Homo sapiens: one gene and its partners. The protein of the gene in region 4 purifies or fractionates together with the protein of the main gene of each other region. This does not show direct contact. Each region holds a gene or a part of one and is shown on either strand. Other genes may lie near its edges.

What was found. The genes of interacting proteins can lie anywhere in the genome.
Region 1: the proteins of NXPH1 (region 4) and GPR107 purify together in Homo sapiens (affinity purification with mass spectrometry; one large-scale study listed by BioGRID and IntAct). This does not show direct contact.
Region 2: the proteins of NXPH1 (region 4) and PRPSAP1 purify together in Homo sapiens (affinity purification with mass spectrometry; one large-scale study listed by BioGRID and IntAct). This does not show direct contact.
Region 3: the proteins of NXPH1 (region 4) and KIAA0319L purify together in Homo sapiens (affinity purification with mass spectrometry; one large-scale study listed by BioGRID and IntAct). This does not show direct contact.

Annotation. Positions count from the first base shown.
Region 1 is NC_000009.12:130,056,906-130,060,405, reverse strand, and holds part of GPR107 (protein GPR107 isoform 3 precursor), read right to left. Parts: intron 1-3,500. UniProt on the Homo sapiens protein: Has been proposed to act as a receptor for neuronostatin, a peptide derived from the somatostatin/SST precursor.
Region 2 is NC_000017.11:76,343,917-76,347,416, forward strand, and holds part of PRPSAP1 (phosphoribosyl pyrophosphate synthase-associated protein 1), read right to left. Parts: intron 2,366-3,500; exon of another isoform or gene 1,813-2,365; intron 822-1,812; coding exon 755-821; intron 1-754. UniProt on the Homo sapiens protein: Seems to play a negative regulatory role in 5-phosphoribose 1-diphosphate synthesis.
Region 3 is NC_000001.11:35,449,404-35,452,903, forward strand, and holds part of KIAA0319L (dyslexia-associated protein KIAA0319-like protein), read right to left. Parts: intron 2,389-3,500; coding exon of another isoform or gene 2,374-2,388; coding exon 2,225-2,373; intron 1,107-2,224; coding exon 955-1,106; intron 603-954; coding exon 464-602; intron 1-463.
Region 4 is NC_000007.14:8,432,475-8,436,408, reverse strand, and holds the start of NXPH1 (neurexophilin-1 precursor), read right to left. Parts: upstream 2,801-3,934; 5' UTR 1,654-2,800; intron 806-1,653; 5' UTR 696-805; coding exon 642-695; intron 1-641. UniProt on the Homo sapiens protein: May be signaling molecules that resemble neuropeptides and that act by binding to alpha-neurexins and possibly other receptors.

The sequences.
Region 1 (3,500 bases), on a different chromosome or scaffold from region 4:
AAACTCGGATTATCATTTTTATTCCATTAATAAGAAATGGATAGGCTGGGCGCGGTGCCTCACACCTGTAATCCCAGCACTTCGGGAGGCCAAAGTGGGCAGAACATCTGAGGTCAGGAGTTTGAGACCAGCCCGGTCAACAGGGCAAAACCCCATCTCTAATAAAAATACAAAAATTAGCTGGGCGTAGTGGTGGGTGCCTGTAATCCCAGCTACTCAGGAGGCTGAGGCAGGAGAATTGCTTGAACCTGGGAGGCGGAGGTTGCAATGAGCCGAGATCGCGCCACTGCACTCCAGCCTGGGGGACAGGATGAGACTCCGTGCGCCCCCCAACCTCCCCCCGAAATAAAACTTATTTACTGATCACGCTGGGCCTGGTGGCTCATGCCTGTAATCCTATCACTTTGGGAGGCCAAGGCGGGTAAATCACCTGAGGTCAGGAGTTCGAGACCAGACTGACCAATATGGTGAAACTCCGTCTCTACTAAAAATACAAAAAATTGGCCAGGTGTGGTGGCAGGTGCCTGTAATCCCAACTACTCAGGAGGTCGAGGCAGGAGAATCACTTGAACCCGGGAGGCAGAGGTTGCAGTGAGCCGAGATTATACCATGGCATTCCAGCTTGGGCAACAAGAACAAACTCCATCTCAAAAAAAAAAAAAAAAAAAAAAAGACGTATTAACTGATCACAGTATGAGGATGTGACTTAGATCCTGATTTTTCAAAACTTTTTCAATCCATTTATGACCAATGAAAATTTGAATCTGATCTGACATATGATACTAAGGATTTTTTTGTTATAATAGCATTGTAGCCATGTTCTTAAAAGAGCTCTTATTTTTTACAGGTAATATCAAAATATTTAAGAATGAAATGATGCAATGCCTTTGATTTGCTTTATTTATTTATTTTTTTTTGAGATGGGAGTCTCACTCTATCGCACAGGCTTGAGTGCAGTGGCACAATCTCAGCTCATAGCAACCTCCACCTCCTGCGTTACAGTGATTCTCCTGCCTCAGCCTCCCCAGTAGCTTGGATTGCAGGCGCCCGCCACCGCACTCGGCTAATTTTTGTATTTTTAGTAGAGACAGGGTTTTACCATGTTGGCTAGGCTGGTCTCGAACTCCTGACCTCAGGTGATCCACCTGCCTTGGCCTCCCAAAGGCCATTACAGGCATGAGCTACCACACCCAGCCAATATGCTTTAAAATAATATAGGAAGACAATGACAAATGCTGATAACATTGTGAAGAAAGAGAACTCTCATAAATTGCTAGTGGGATGTAAAATGGTAGAGCCACTTTGGAAAATAGTTTGGCAGTTTCTTAAAAAGTTAAACATAAATCTATCATATGACCCAGCAATTCTACTCCACTCCTGGATATCATCCAAGAGAAATGAAAACATATGGCCCCACAAAGCCTTGCAATGTGAACGTTTATGGCACCATCATTCATAATGGCCAAACAGTGGAAACAACCCAAACATCCATCGACTGGTGAACTGCTAAGCAAAAGAAGATATATCCACACGCTGGAAGACCATTCAACAGTAAAAAGGAATGAATTACTGACACATGGCACAAAATGAACGAAGCTCAAAAAAGAAAGAAAGAAAGATGGGCACAAAAGCCTACCTATCGGCCGGGCGCAGTGGCTCACACCTGTGATCCCAGAACTTTGGGAGGCCGAGGCGGGCGGACTGCTTGAGGCCAGGAGTTCGAGACAAGCCTTGCCGCCATGGCAAAACCCTGTCTCTACTAAAAATACAAAAATTAGCTGAGCGTGGTGGCAGGTGCCTGTAATCTCAGCTACTCGGGAGGCTGAGGCAGGAGAATCGCCTGAACCTGGGAGGTAGAGGTTGCAGTGAGCCGAGATAACGCCATTGCGCTCCAGCCTAGGCAACAGTCCGAGACTCCGTCTAAAAAAAAAAAAAGAAAAAAAGCCTACTCATCCTGTGATTCCACTTACATTAAACATCCAGAAAGGGTAGGTTTATAGAGACAGAAAGTAGATTAGTGGCTGCCTGGGACTAGTGGTGGGAATGGGAATTGATTCTAAACCAACACAAGGGATCTTATGGGGTGACAGAAACGTTCTGTGGCTAGATTGTGGTCATAGCTGTACAACTCGGTAAACTTACTAACAATCATTGCATTATACAGTTAAAATGGGTGATCTTATGGTATGTAAATTATACCTCAATAAAGTTGTTCTTAAAAGGCAAGGAGTATTTCCTGCTGACAGGTCTTTAAAAAAATAAACAAAAATAATAAATAGCCAGGAGCGGTGGCTCACGCCTGTAATCCCAGCACTTTGGGAGGCCGAGGCAGGTGGATCACCTGAGGTTAGGAGTTCAAGACTAGCCTGATCAATATGGCAAAACCCCATCTCTACTAAAAATACAAAAATTAGCCAGGCGTGGTGGCGCATGCCTATAATCCCAGCTACTTGGGAGGTTGAGGCAGGAGATCGCTTGAACCGGGAGGCGGAGGTTGCTGTAAGCTGAGATCGCGCCATTGCTTTCCAGCCTGGGTGCCAGAGCAAAACTCTGTCTCAAAAAAAAAAAATAATAATAATAAATAAATAAAAAGGCAAGGAATATAGGGAAAAGTCAAAAGAGATGGACTGTGAGAAGACTGGGAAAGCCAGAAGAATGGTGGAAAATGTAGCATGGAGTAAGACAATAAAAATATAAGAGGACTCATTTCTAATTTTAAAAATAATAAAAAATAAGAACCAGAAATTGATGTATGTGGGATGAGGCAGAATCAGCCATGTGTTGATGGTTATTGAGGGTGACAGGCACATGGGAGTTCATTATGCTATTCTATCTGCTTTAGTATATTGGAAATTCTCCACAATAAAAAGGTTGTTTTGCTTTGTCTTTTTTTTTTTTTTTTTTAAGAAATAGGGTCTCACTCTGTCCCCCAGGCTGGAGCCATTATAGCTCACTACAGCTTCTGACTCCTAGGCTCAAGGGATCCTGCCACCTCAGCCTCCCTGGTAGCTGGGACTATAGGTATGCACCACCACATCTGGCTAATTTTTGTTGCTGTTGTTGAGATGGGGTCTTGCTCTGTCGCCCAGGCTAGAGTGTAGTGTCGCCATCATAGCTCACCGCAGCCTCCAACTCTTGACCTCAAACGAGCTTCCCTAAGTGCTGAGATTACAGGTGTGAGCTACCAGGCGCAGCCAGGTTTTAAGAGATCAACGCATACTCCTGGTACTCAGTGACCTCTTCATGTTATCCTTGCCATTATGGGTCTCTAATCTGATCAAGTACCCTATTTCACTCAGTCTCAAGCAAAACAGACAATCTAAAGTTGCTGCTCTGACAGGCTCTCTTCAAATGATTTCCATTTCCTTGGGCAAGAACTCAGAACAAGCTTGTCCAGGATGCATGCGGCCCAGGATGGCTTTGAATGCGGCCCAACACAAATTTGTGAACTTTCTTTTTTTTTTTTTTTTTTTTTTTTTTTGAGAAGGAGTCTCGCTCTG
Region 2 (3,500 bases), on a different chromosome or scaffold from region 4:
GGAAGCATTTAGTTTAACATGCAAACGAATGTATAACTTTTTTTTTTCTTTGGTGAGACAGTCTCACTCTGTCGCCCAGGCTAGAGTGCAGTGGCGCGATCTCAGCTCACCTCTGCCTCCTGGGTTCAAGCACTTCTCCTGCCTTAGCCTCTCAAACAGCTGGACTACAGGCGCATGCCACCATGCCCAGCTAACTTTTGTTTTTTATTCATTTATTTTGTTTTTTTTTGAGATGGAGTCTTGCTCTGTAGCCCAGGCTGGAGTGCAGTGGCGCGATCTCGGCTCACTGCAAGCTCTGCCTCCTGGGTTCACGCCTTTCTCCTATCTCAGCCTCCTAAGTAGCTGGGACTATAGGTGCCCGCCACCACGCCCGGCTAATTTTTTTGTATTTTTTAGTGGAGACGGGGTTTCACCATGTTAGCCAGGATGGTCTCGATCTCCTGACCTCGTGATCCGCCCGCCTCGGCCTCCCAAAGTGCTGGGATTACAGGCGTGAGCCATCGTGCCCAGCCAGCAATTTCTGTATTTTTAACAGAGACAGGGTTTCAACATATTGGTCAGGCTGGTCTCGAACTCCTGACCTCGTGATCCGCCCACCTCGGCCTCCCAAAGTGTTGGCATAACAGGCGTGAGCCACACGCCCGGCCTGAATATATAACTTTTAAAAACACTAAGTTGTTGTTCATATGAAAAGATAATCAATTATATTGTTAAGGTTTTTACAGAAAAGAGATAAAGTAGTCAGTCCTCTTACCTGGGTATTGTCTGTATAATGAAAATATCTTGGCCACGAACAGATTCTTTTATTTCAACTCTTGTTTCTGAAAAATAAAAATGTTCTGAAGTTTTAAGAAAAGCTCCTATGTTAAAAAGGAGAAAAAAGAAAAACAAAAGTACTTCATGCCGGGCGCGGTGGCACATGCCTGTAATCCTAGCACTTTAGGAGGGCTGAGGAAAGCAGATCACTTGAGCACCAGAGTTCAAGAACAGCCTAGGCAACATGACAAAATCCTGTCTCTACAAAAAATACAAGAATTAGCTGGGCGCGGTGGCTCACGCCTGTAATCCCAGCACTTTGGGAGGCCGAGGTGGGCAGATCACGAGGTCAGGAGATCGAGACCATCCTGGCTAACACAGTGAAACCCCGTCTCTACTAAAAACACAAAAAATTAGCCGGGCGTGGTGGCGGGTGCCTGTAGTCCCAGCTACTCGGGAGGCTGAGGCAGGAGAATGGCGTGAACCTGGGAGGCAGAGCTTGCAGTGAGCCGAGATCGCGCCACTGCACTCCAGCCTGGGTGACAGAGCAAGATTCCGTCTCATTAAAAAAAAAAAAAAAAAAGAGTTCTTCGAGACCAGCCCGGCCAATATGGTGAAACCCTGTCTCTACTAAAAATACAAAAATTAGCCAGGCATGGTGGCGCACAACTATAATCCCAGCTACTCAGGAGGCTGAGGCAGAAGAATCACTTGAACCTGGGAGGCAGAGCTTGCAGTGAGCCGTGATCGCGCCACTGCACTCCAGTCTGGGTGACACAGCGAGATTCTATCTCAAAAAAATAATTAGCTGGACATGGTGACAAGTGCCTGTAGTCCCAGTGGGAGGATCACCTGAGCCAGGGAAGGTCATGGCTGCAGTGTGAGCTGAAACTGTGCCACTGCACTTCAGCCTGGACAACAGAGACCTTGTCTGGAGAAAAAAAAAAAAAAAAAGCAGAAAAGCAAAGCACTCATGATGCAACAGCTAGAAACATTTGGAGGGAGTAAAGATTAATCTAAACCAACATTTTATCTGGGGCAAAAGAATAAGTCTTGGAGCAGTATGAAGAAGAGGAAGCGAGAATGACCCCCGACTGAGCGCAGTCCGTGCACCGCCACTGCATCCCGCTCCCAGTGCCTACGTCCGGCTGCTTTCGTTGCCACCATGCCCAAGAGAAAGGCTGAAGGGGATGCTAAGGGAGATGAGGCCAAGGTGAAAGACGAACCACAGAGAAGATCTGTGAGGCTGTCTGCTAAACCTGCTCCTCCCTCCAAAGCCAGAGCCCAGGCCTAAAAAGGCCACTGCAAAGAAGGGAGAGAAGGTACCCAAGGGAAAAAGGAAAAAGCTGACACTGGCGAGGAGGGGAATGACTCTATGGGAAGTGGAGATGCCTGAACACACCAGGCACCTGCTGGAGATGCTGAGGGAAGCGTGTGCATTTTGGATAACTGTGTACTTCTGGTGACTGTACAGTTTGAAATACTATTTTTTATCAAGTTTTATAAAAACGCAGAATTTTTGTTTTCTAAGCTATGTTGTTAGCACACAGAACGCTTCATTGTTGTTCTGGGGAAAGGAGCATATGTCATGAATAGAATGTCTCCGAAGCTGGATTGATGTGGGGAAAGCACCTTTCCCTTCTAGTTTTGAGAGACTTCCTCTCGGCTCCCAGGAAGAGGGGCTCCCTGACTTTGACACACATGGCCACCTCAGCACACAAAAGCCTTGTGCTCTGAAAAGACAAATTTGTTTCTATGTCCTCTTCTCCCTTTCCACCTTTCAGCATGGACTTAAATCCCTTAAAGCCAGACATCTGTTGGCACCTGACCCCCCCATAATTGATTACCAGTGTGGCAGGCAATCTGGACCTTCCAGTGATGCCACTGAGATGGCGCCCCTCAAAAGAGCAGTAGTTCCGTTTCTAGACTGTGGATCTTCAGATAAACTCTGCCATATTCATTTCACTTCCGGAAAGTCAGGGTCAGCTTGTGAAAAGTTGTTAAACAACATGCTAAATGTTCACTGGGTTTTACAGTGGCTTTCTGATTTTTGGTTGTGCACTGAAAAAGGGAGTTTGGCCGGGCGCGGTGGCTCCGCCTGTAATCCCAGCACTTTGGGAGGCTGAGGCAGGAGAATTGCTCGAACCTGGGAGGCAGAGGCTGCAGTAAGCTGAGATTGCACCACTGCACTCCAGCCCGGGCGACATCCTTATTATTTTTTCAACAAATGCTGAAGCCTCCTCCATGTCAGGAACTGTACTGGGAACCCCAAAATGCAGGACTTGGAAGAAGGGACAAAGACTGACCCAGGAGAGATGATACAACAACAAGGCCAGCAAACCCTCCGGGCCCAATATGCCAGAGACGCTAGCCATGACGAAGGAGAAAGAACAATGGGGCTGGAAAAAAGGGCCTCACTGCAATCCAGAACGAGCAGCGCAGAAGGGGGTTTGGGAACATGGGAAGATGTGGGATCCGAGTGTGCCAAGCAGAGGGGCAGGCAGTTAGTCCACTTAGAAAGCAGACAGAGTGGGCCGGGCGCGGTGGCTCATGCCTGTAATCCCAACACTTTGGGAGGCCAAGACGGGTGGATCACCTGAGGTCAGGAGTTCAAGACCAGCCTGACCAACATGGCAAAACCCCCGTCTCTGCTAAAAATACAAAATTAGCCGGGTTTGGTGGCGTATGCCTGTAATCCCAGCTACTTGGGAGGCTGAGGCAAGAGGATTGCTTGAACCTGGGAG
Region 3 (3,500 bases), on a different chromosome or scaffold from region 4:
CCCTGGATTATCAGACAAGGCCTGAGGCTCAACTTATAAAAATAAATTGTTTTCTGCATCTGGATGCTGATGAGACATCATGACTCAAGCTATTCCCATGCTCAGATTCCCAAGCACTCTGAGCCCTCTCTCATCAGTCACGAGGAGAGGAGAAAGTGCTGGACTACGAGCACAAAGGCCTGGCTCTGACACAACTGCTGTGTGACACTGAGCAAGTCCTGCCCTCTCTGAGTTTGTTTCTCCATCTGAGATGAATAGGGGGAGGTCTGTATTTCTGCATGGGTAGGAGGTATTATTGGAACAGACGGTCTCTATGGATTTTTCAGCTTGGGGTTTCTCGATTATTTTTAAAGCTGGACATGCCATCTGGCTCTGTCCATGCTCGGGGAAGGGGATCTCAGGATAGAGGCCTTGATTGGCTGATTCAGCAATTCTACTCAGCCTCATCACTAAATGAACTCACCAGGTTTCACCTCCACAGTGGTCCGGTCTGTGTCACTCTCACCCTTTGCATCGGTCACTTTCAGGTGAAAAGTGTAGGTTCCCTCAACCAGGTTTGAAAGAAAAAGGATAGGGTGATGGTCAGAGTGATTTAACACCTCCTGTAGGGTTGAACAACATGGCTATGTTACAGAACAAAATGCCATTCCTTTCCTGGAGTCAGTTGCTGCTTTCACCATAACTAGGCCCTTCAGGGCTGAACTGTTTCAACCTTGGGCAGTTCCTGATACGGAACAGCATTGCAGCCTACAACTGCTAGGATCAGGGAAGGGAAACCCATTCTGTGCTATACTAGCTTACAGAATGACCCTAAGCAAGTCACTTCACCTCCCTGGATTTCAGAGAACAATCTGGGTTTGATATAAGGGACCACTTGATTAAAGCATATACTGGAACGCGTGGCTCCTCCTCCTCCCCACTCCTGTGTAGCTCTCCAGCTCCTAGCACACTTACCCCTGCTGCTGGGCTCCCCTCATCTCGAGTCCAGAGGTAGCTGACTATTCCCTTGTCATCTGAGGACTTAGAGCCATCCAGCTCTGCTGTGCTCGTGGGTAGGGTAATCACCACATTCCCAGTTATCTTGGCTATAGGTGGTTTGTTTATTTCTAATCAAAAAGAAATCATTGACATAATGTGACATTCTGGAAAAGAAGAAATGTTTCTTCATGATGCTTATGGGGAAATTAAAACATCAAGAGTACCTTAACTGGAGAACCTTTTTAAGTGCCTGTCCCTGCCACCAACCAACAGTGTAGATGAAAGCTACCAGCGCTGCAGTCCTGAGGTTCCAGTCCTACCCAGAGAAATGTTCTCCTAACACTGTACAACAGAGGGGACGAGTGTGCTTTCCTCTCATATTCTCCCAGCAGCCTTCCCAAATGGAATCCATTTCTCTGCTTTGGAGGTATGTGATGATCAGAAATAACGGCCCAAACTGGCTTAAAACCTTGGAGTTTAGGTTTCACCTAGCTGATCTTGCAAATTCTCCTTCAAAATATCTTAAAATGTTATTCTCTGAATATCTTTTTGGACCCCTTCCTTGGAACTTCACAAGAGAAAACAAAGAGCTACCTCTCTTATTCGGAGCCCCACGTGAAGCTCTGTATATTCAGATGTCTGTGCAGTATTTACTCAGCTTGGTATCTTATGTCTGGAGGTCTGCATATCTGATGGTTTTTCCTGCTATCAACTTAAGGCCCTCAACTTAAGGCCCTCTCCCACAGCTCTCACTGGTCACTGTGCCTGTAAACTAGAGCAAGGCCTCTGGCTGGCCTCAGCTCAAAGGCTCAGGGCAAGCATAGTCAGCTGTAGTGCGGCCGTCATTCTCAAGCCTGACAGCAGGTGTCACTGTAGCTAACAGGAGTCACGGCCCAGGTCTCAGCAATGCAGAGGGGCAAAATAAAAATGCAAAGAATAGAACCCTTAATTCTTTCCCTATTCAACTGAGAAATAAAGTAAGGAGGGAAGGAGGGAGGACTGAAAAGAAAGTAAGGGGATGAGAGGGAAGGGAAGATGTAAGCAGGAGGAGGGAGGGAAGTTAAAATTCACCTTACAGTCCAATTAAAGGCTGTTTTAGAAAAGAAAATAACAATTGCCCTCACCCCAACCCTCTTACCCACCTCTTGCTATCTCTAATCAATTTCTGCAGGCAAACATGACAGGATAAATTCTTCAGCTATCTGACCCTAAGAGGCTGCTACACAAACTGGAGGCAGAGAGGTACCTTCTTTGACAATGACATTCACAGAGCTCTGGCTTTGCAGGTTCCTCTCATCTTTGACAGTCAAGGTGAACACATAGGTCCCCACTTGCAGCCCAGTCACAGTAGCAACACTGCTGTTAGCATTCTCGAGCTGCACCCCATCAGGTCCCCTGCAAAAAAAGAAACTAGAGGGTAGAGTTGTACCTGTCTGCTGCTGTCCTGTCCCTAACTTAGCAGGAGGAGACAATGACTCCCTCAGCAAAGACACGAACTACTGTTACCCAGACCTTGACAAGACATGTTTAAAAATATTTCAATTGGACAAAGTGTCATTTGGCCTCAAAATACAGGCTGCCTGCTGGTCAGAAAATTCAAATAGCTTTCAAACACCTCTAGCCTTATCCTTTATATGAGCTTCTAGAACACTTGAACGCTTTACCATTCTAGTTTGTAAAAGGAAGAAAGTTCTCTGAGCAAGTCTCTGATCAAAAGAATGATTTAAGAGTGATGTTTCTAAAAAGCATTTCTGGCCCAGTAGTTGGTTTGGCTCTTGCCAGCAAGGAAGCAAAATGCATTTCTTAATCACGTGCCCAAATCCTTCCTGATGAAAGAAAAGGAAATGGGGCAAGACTGCAGAGGAACTCTCAGGACAAAATCATCTTGTTTGTAGCAACTCTATAAGCAAAGTTCCCTCCAGCTCCTGGACAGGGGCCATCAAGCACCTAGGACACCCTACAACCCTTCTTCCCCCTTGTGGCCTCAGAGACTTGCCTGCAGCAGCCAAGGGAGCTCTGTGCCAACATTCAGGCTGCACACAGCCAGAGAGCCCTCTGCTCAAGGATCAAAATGCCCCAGAGCTTTTAACTACAGGAAAGCCAGAGAAATCTGCAGACATCCAGGATTTACTTTGTTTTGCCTTTTAAAGTTACAGCCTCTGATCCTGGTAGCTCCTCCTGAAGCACAGTCTCCTTCAAGAAGCTATGCTAAGCATTATCTCTGCTGTAAACACTAATAAAACTCAGCTAAAAGGTCTATCAGCCATATCTTCAATAAACAATTATAATTAAAAACACCCTGGGCTGGGTAAGATTATGTTCTACAAAAGATAAAAACAAGAGCTGAGGGAAATAATTTCTAGATTCCAACTCAGCAATCTCAAAAGCAAGTCATTTGTATAGTCAAATTAAAGTTCTTTTCCACCCATCTCCAATGCCTTTGTCAAACAAACAAACAAACAAACAAACAAACAAACACAATACAAAAAAAAACCCAGGCTGTCCTATGGTTGCTACCTTTG
Region 4 (3,934 bases):
AGTCACTGGAGATGGGATTTAGTTATTTGATGAAAAGGGGAGGTCGAGACGAGAGGAAGGTGGACATGTTTGCTGGAGTATCTCTGTCCTAACTCCGATTGCTTGCAGTACCCCTGATAGTTAAACTTATCCTGTCGGAACCCTTACAAGTCAAAGAAAGTTAACTGCGCTTCTTTATGTGTCTCATCTCCAAATCGGGGAAGTGGGTGGGTAGATTCACTTTTAAACTCACAGACCTGGGCAGATTTGTTCTTTCCACCACCCAACTACACCCCCACTTCCCTTCGTTTAAACTCTGTGCATGAGCTACTGAGAGTTCCTGCCTTCCACTTCTTCTCGTTGGCCCTCTATCACATAAAGCACCCCATCTCACTACCTCCTTGGGTTTAGGGTGTCTGGGGCGCCCTAGCCCCTTTCAAGAATCACGCGCAGGAGACTGGGGGATTGGAGCAGAAAATGGGGTGGGAACCCCGGAAAATCCGCAGGAATCCAGAGACCAGCTTGCCAAAGTTGCTCCAACACAGCTGCTAGGAAGCTGCTCTCACTGAACTGGCGGCGTAACCCTTCTCCCGCGTGTCCCCAGTTTCCTTGCCTCCCGGCCGGGGTAAAAATGCGAAAGCCCCGAACCTTCCAAGACTTACCAAGTAGACGGTGGGCTGCAGGAGGAAAAGCACGTACCAGCACGCAGCCTGCATTCTCCCGCGTCTCAAACTTCCTTGGCGGTGCCTTCTTTGAGTCTTTGTTCCTTCAGAAACATAGATCCACCTGACATCCACTTTACAGAGCAAGGAGCGCTCTCAGCAGCCTAGATGCAAATAAAATTAGACATCCCATGACTACGCGGGCAAGGTTAGGCTTGACAATCAAGCGGGGAAAGGGGGTCGTAGCGGGGAGTGGGGGACCAAAAAAAAAAGGGAGGGAGGGTACGAAAAATTGAAAAGCGAGTAAATCCAGCGCCTGAGACCAGCAAGCGCGCGGTCCGCAGCTGGGGAGGCGGGCGGGCGGACGAGAGGGAGGGTGAGGGGCTCCTTGCCCCCTGCGCTCCTCGGGTGCGAGTTCCCAGGCGGCGGAGCACACTGAGCCGCGTGCAGGCTGGTTCGGAGCCCAGGCTTCTCCGGCAGCGAGACCTGCCCTTGTGTTGGGTGGCCCGGCGGCTCGGACTAAAGGCGGCGGCTGGTTCTTCGCCAGCCCTGGCAGTGCTCACACACGTACACACCAGCAGAGAGAGATAGAGGGGAAAGATAAAGGGAGAGAGAGAGATTGAGCGAGGGGGGCGCGGTGAGAGGAAGAGGTAGGTAGAACTGACCGCGATTAGGTGCTAGGTACCTCAACACGTTCGGTGAAGTGGGGGTGGGGAAAGAGAATGCAATTTGCATACAGGAAAGCAGGGATCAGTTTACCCATTCGAACCCCTGGCGCACACAGAGATACCCACGAATGCTCACAGTCACATCTCTAGCACTACTTTTTTCGAGCCAAAGGGTACAGCCGGTCGCTAACTTCTAGAGAAGAAGCCTCCTCCGAGCTGTGAGGGTCACCTGCCAGGCTTGTTCTCTTTCCTAACCAGCGCCCCTCCCTGCCGTCCCTTCCTCGTGCCCACCACCCCGCTCCCAGGTGTACCCTCCGGGAACAGCGGAGGCAAAGGGTACGTACCGCACAGGACTTGGGGCGAATCCTGCGAGAAGGGACCGCTCTGGGCAGGCTCCATGGAGAAGCTACTCGGGCCTGGCGTCTCCAGCGCCCCGGACGTGCCCTCCCAGGCGCTCCGTCTCCATGCTCGAGCGCAGACGGGTCCGGCTGCCTCGTCCAGCTTTGGCGGAGTCGCCGTCCCAGTGCCCGGGTCGCGCTCAGGATTGGTTCGCGGGAGCCAAGGCTTGGCACAGTTGGATTCACGGTGCAGGAAACTTAAGAGGCAAGAGAGGGAGGGAGCAGTAGAGGAGGAAAGAGAGGAAGACAGAAAGGGAGGGAGAGCAAGAGGGAGGGAGAGAGGGGAATGCGCCGGGCTGCTGCACCGGACGGACTGGGACTGCCAGCGCTGGCACCCGGACGAACAGTCCAGGACTCTCGGCTTCCCACAGCTGCCTGAGGATGGTGGAAATGACTTAAGGGGAGGAGACTGAGCAAGTCCTCTGGACTTGAAGTGGAGAGATAAGACACTGGCCTTTCGGAAGAAAAGAGAACCACACGGCAGACGAGAGCAGTCCGAGTTTCTGAGGGAGGGGTGGGGTGGCGAGAATCTGGAGCCTGCGGCACACGGAGCAGCTGTACCTCTACCCGCGACGCTGGGAAGCCCAGGAGCCGGTCCCCAGTGGAGTCCCGGGCGCTGTCCCTGGTGCTGCCCGGCCACCCGGGGACGCTCTGGAGCGCTTTGGGTTTCCGGCGGCCGCGGTGGTCGTGGTTTCTCCGCAGAGCCGCGGCTTGGCACGCCTACCTTCCTGACACGGACAATTACTTTGGCACGTGGGTGAATGATTCCTCAAAGACTAATTAGTACCCTGTGTAAACAGATCCGGCTCTCAGGCTCTCGCGGGCTGGGCCCACAGGGACAAGTGGCTCCCGCGGTGTCTTCGGTGGCCGCAGCGCCCCCTTCCCGGGGGGCGTAGGGAAGATCGCAAAGCCCAGGGGAGTGGCGGGAAGAGCAGCCGGGAGTCGCGTAGGGCGGGGAAGGGCGCGGGAGGGTGCAGGGCGCCCCTGCCGGCCTCGAGCGCCGACGCCGGGCGCCTCCGACCTGTGGCTGCCGGGCCGGAGGCGGGGGAGCCGCAGACTGCCAGCCATTCAGCTCGAGACAGCCGAGAGGACTGGGCGACCTTGGCCTCTGGACTCCTCGCCGCCGGCTGGGCTGAGCGTGAAGGGGGAGGAGGAGGACGGGGGATGCTTCGAGCCGTCACCACCTCCCTCGCTACTGACACCTCCCACTCAACCAGCGTCTCCCAGACTCGGCCTCTGTGCTCCGACTCTGGCTGTCTCTGTCTTTCTCAGTCTCTCCCTTACTGTCCCTATTTCTCAGTATCTTTCTCACTCCCTCTCTCTCTCTGTCTCCTTCTTCTGTCATTCTTGTGGTCTGCGTCTCTGTCCCTCAGCATCTTTCTGCCTTTTTCTGCCTTTCTGTGTGTCTCACTCAGGATTTCTGACTCTAGGTCTCTGTATCTCTGTGCCTCTACCGTGTCCCTGCCATTCCCCCTCAAACCCTGTTTTGTTTTTTGTTTTTTTTCCTCCACCCTTCCAGTGCACCACCACCAGAGCAGTTTCACCAGTCTCGGGAGACAGCCAGGACCAGCTTCTTCTGGTGCTGGTGGGGTTGCCAGTGCTCCTTGAGCTTGCCCAAATTCAGGGCACAAATCGGAACCCGGAAGAGGGTATCTCTTCCCCAACCTTGCCCATTGCATCTCCAAGCCTGCCCTTCACCAGAGCCTCTCCTGGGGTGATGCACATATCCATATCAATCTGTAGGAATTGTATGGAAATTTATCTCAGGAACCTGAGTTAGTGACATCAAAATCGAATTGTGATATTTAATGAGTCTGGAATGTCCTTTCCTCAAGTGTGGCTGTGGACACTCTGGCAGGTCTGGGCCTAGATACAATGTACACTCTAGACAATAGGTCCCAGGCTGAATTCCCCTGGATGATGGAGACCACCCCTCAAACAAGGCAGTGACAATCAGCAGAGCCACCCAGTCCTGCAGCAGAGGCAAGAGGAGCCCCACTGAGACCTTCCCCTGGAATCAGATCTCCAAAGACCTCCAAATTAGATCCCCACTGTAGAACATACCTACCAGCACTTTGAGGTCTACACTCTCCCTTCCAGCTAAAAATAACTCTTTAAAGAGCAAGCTCTTCTAATCTTAAAAGTTGTACTCTGCTGCTGTGACCTCCTGGAATTCATTGGGGCATATGCAGAATAAAGCAGTGAAGCACACCTTCTAACTGTGTCT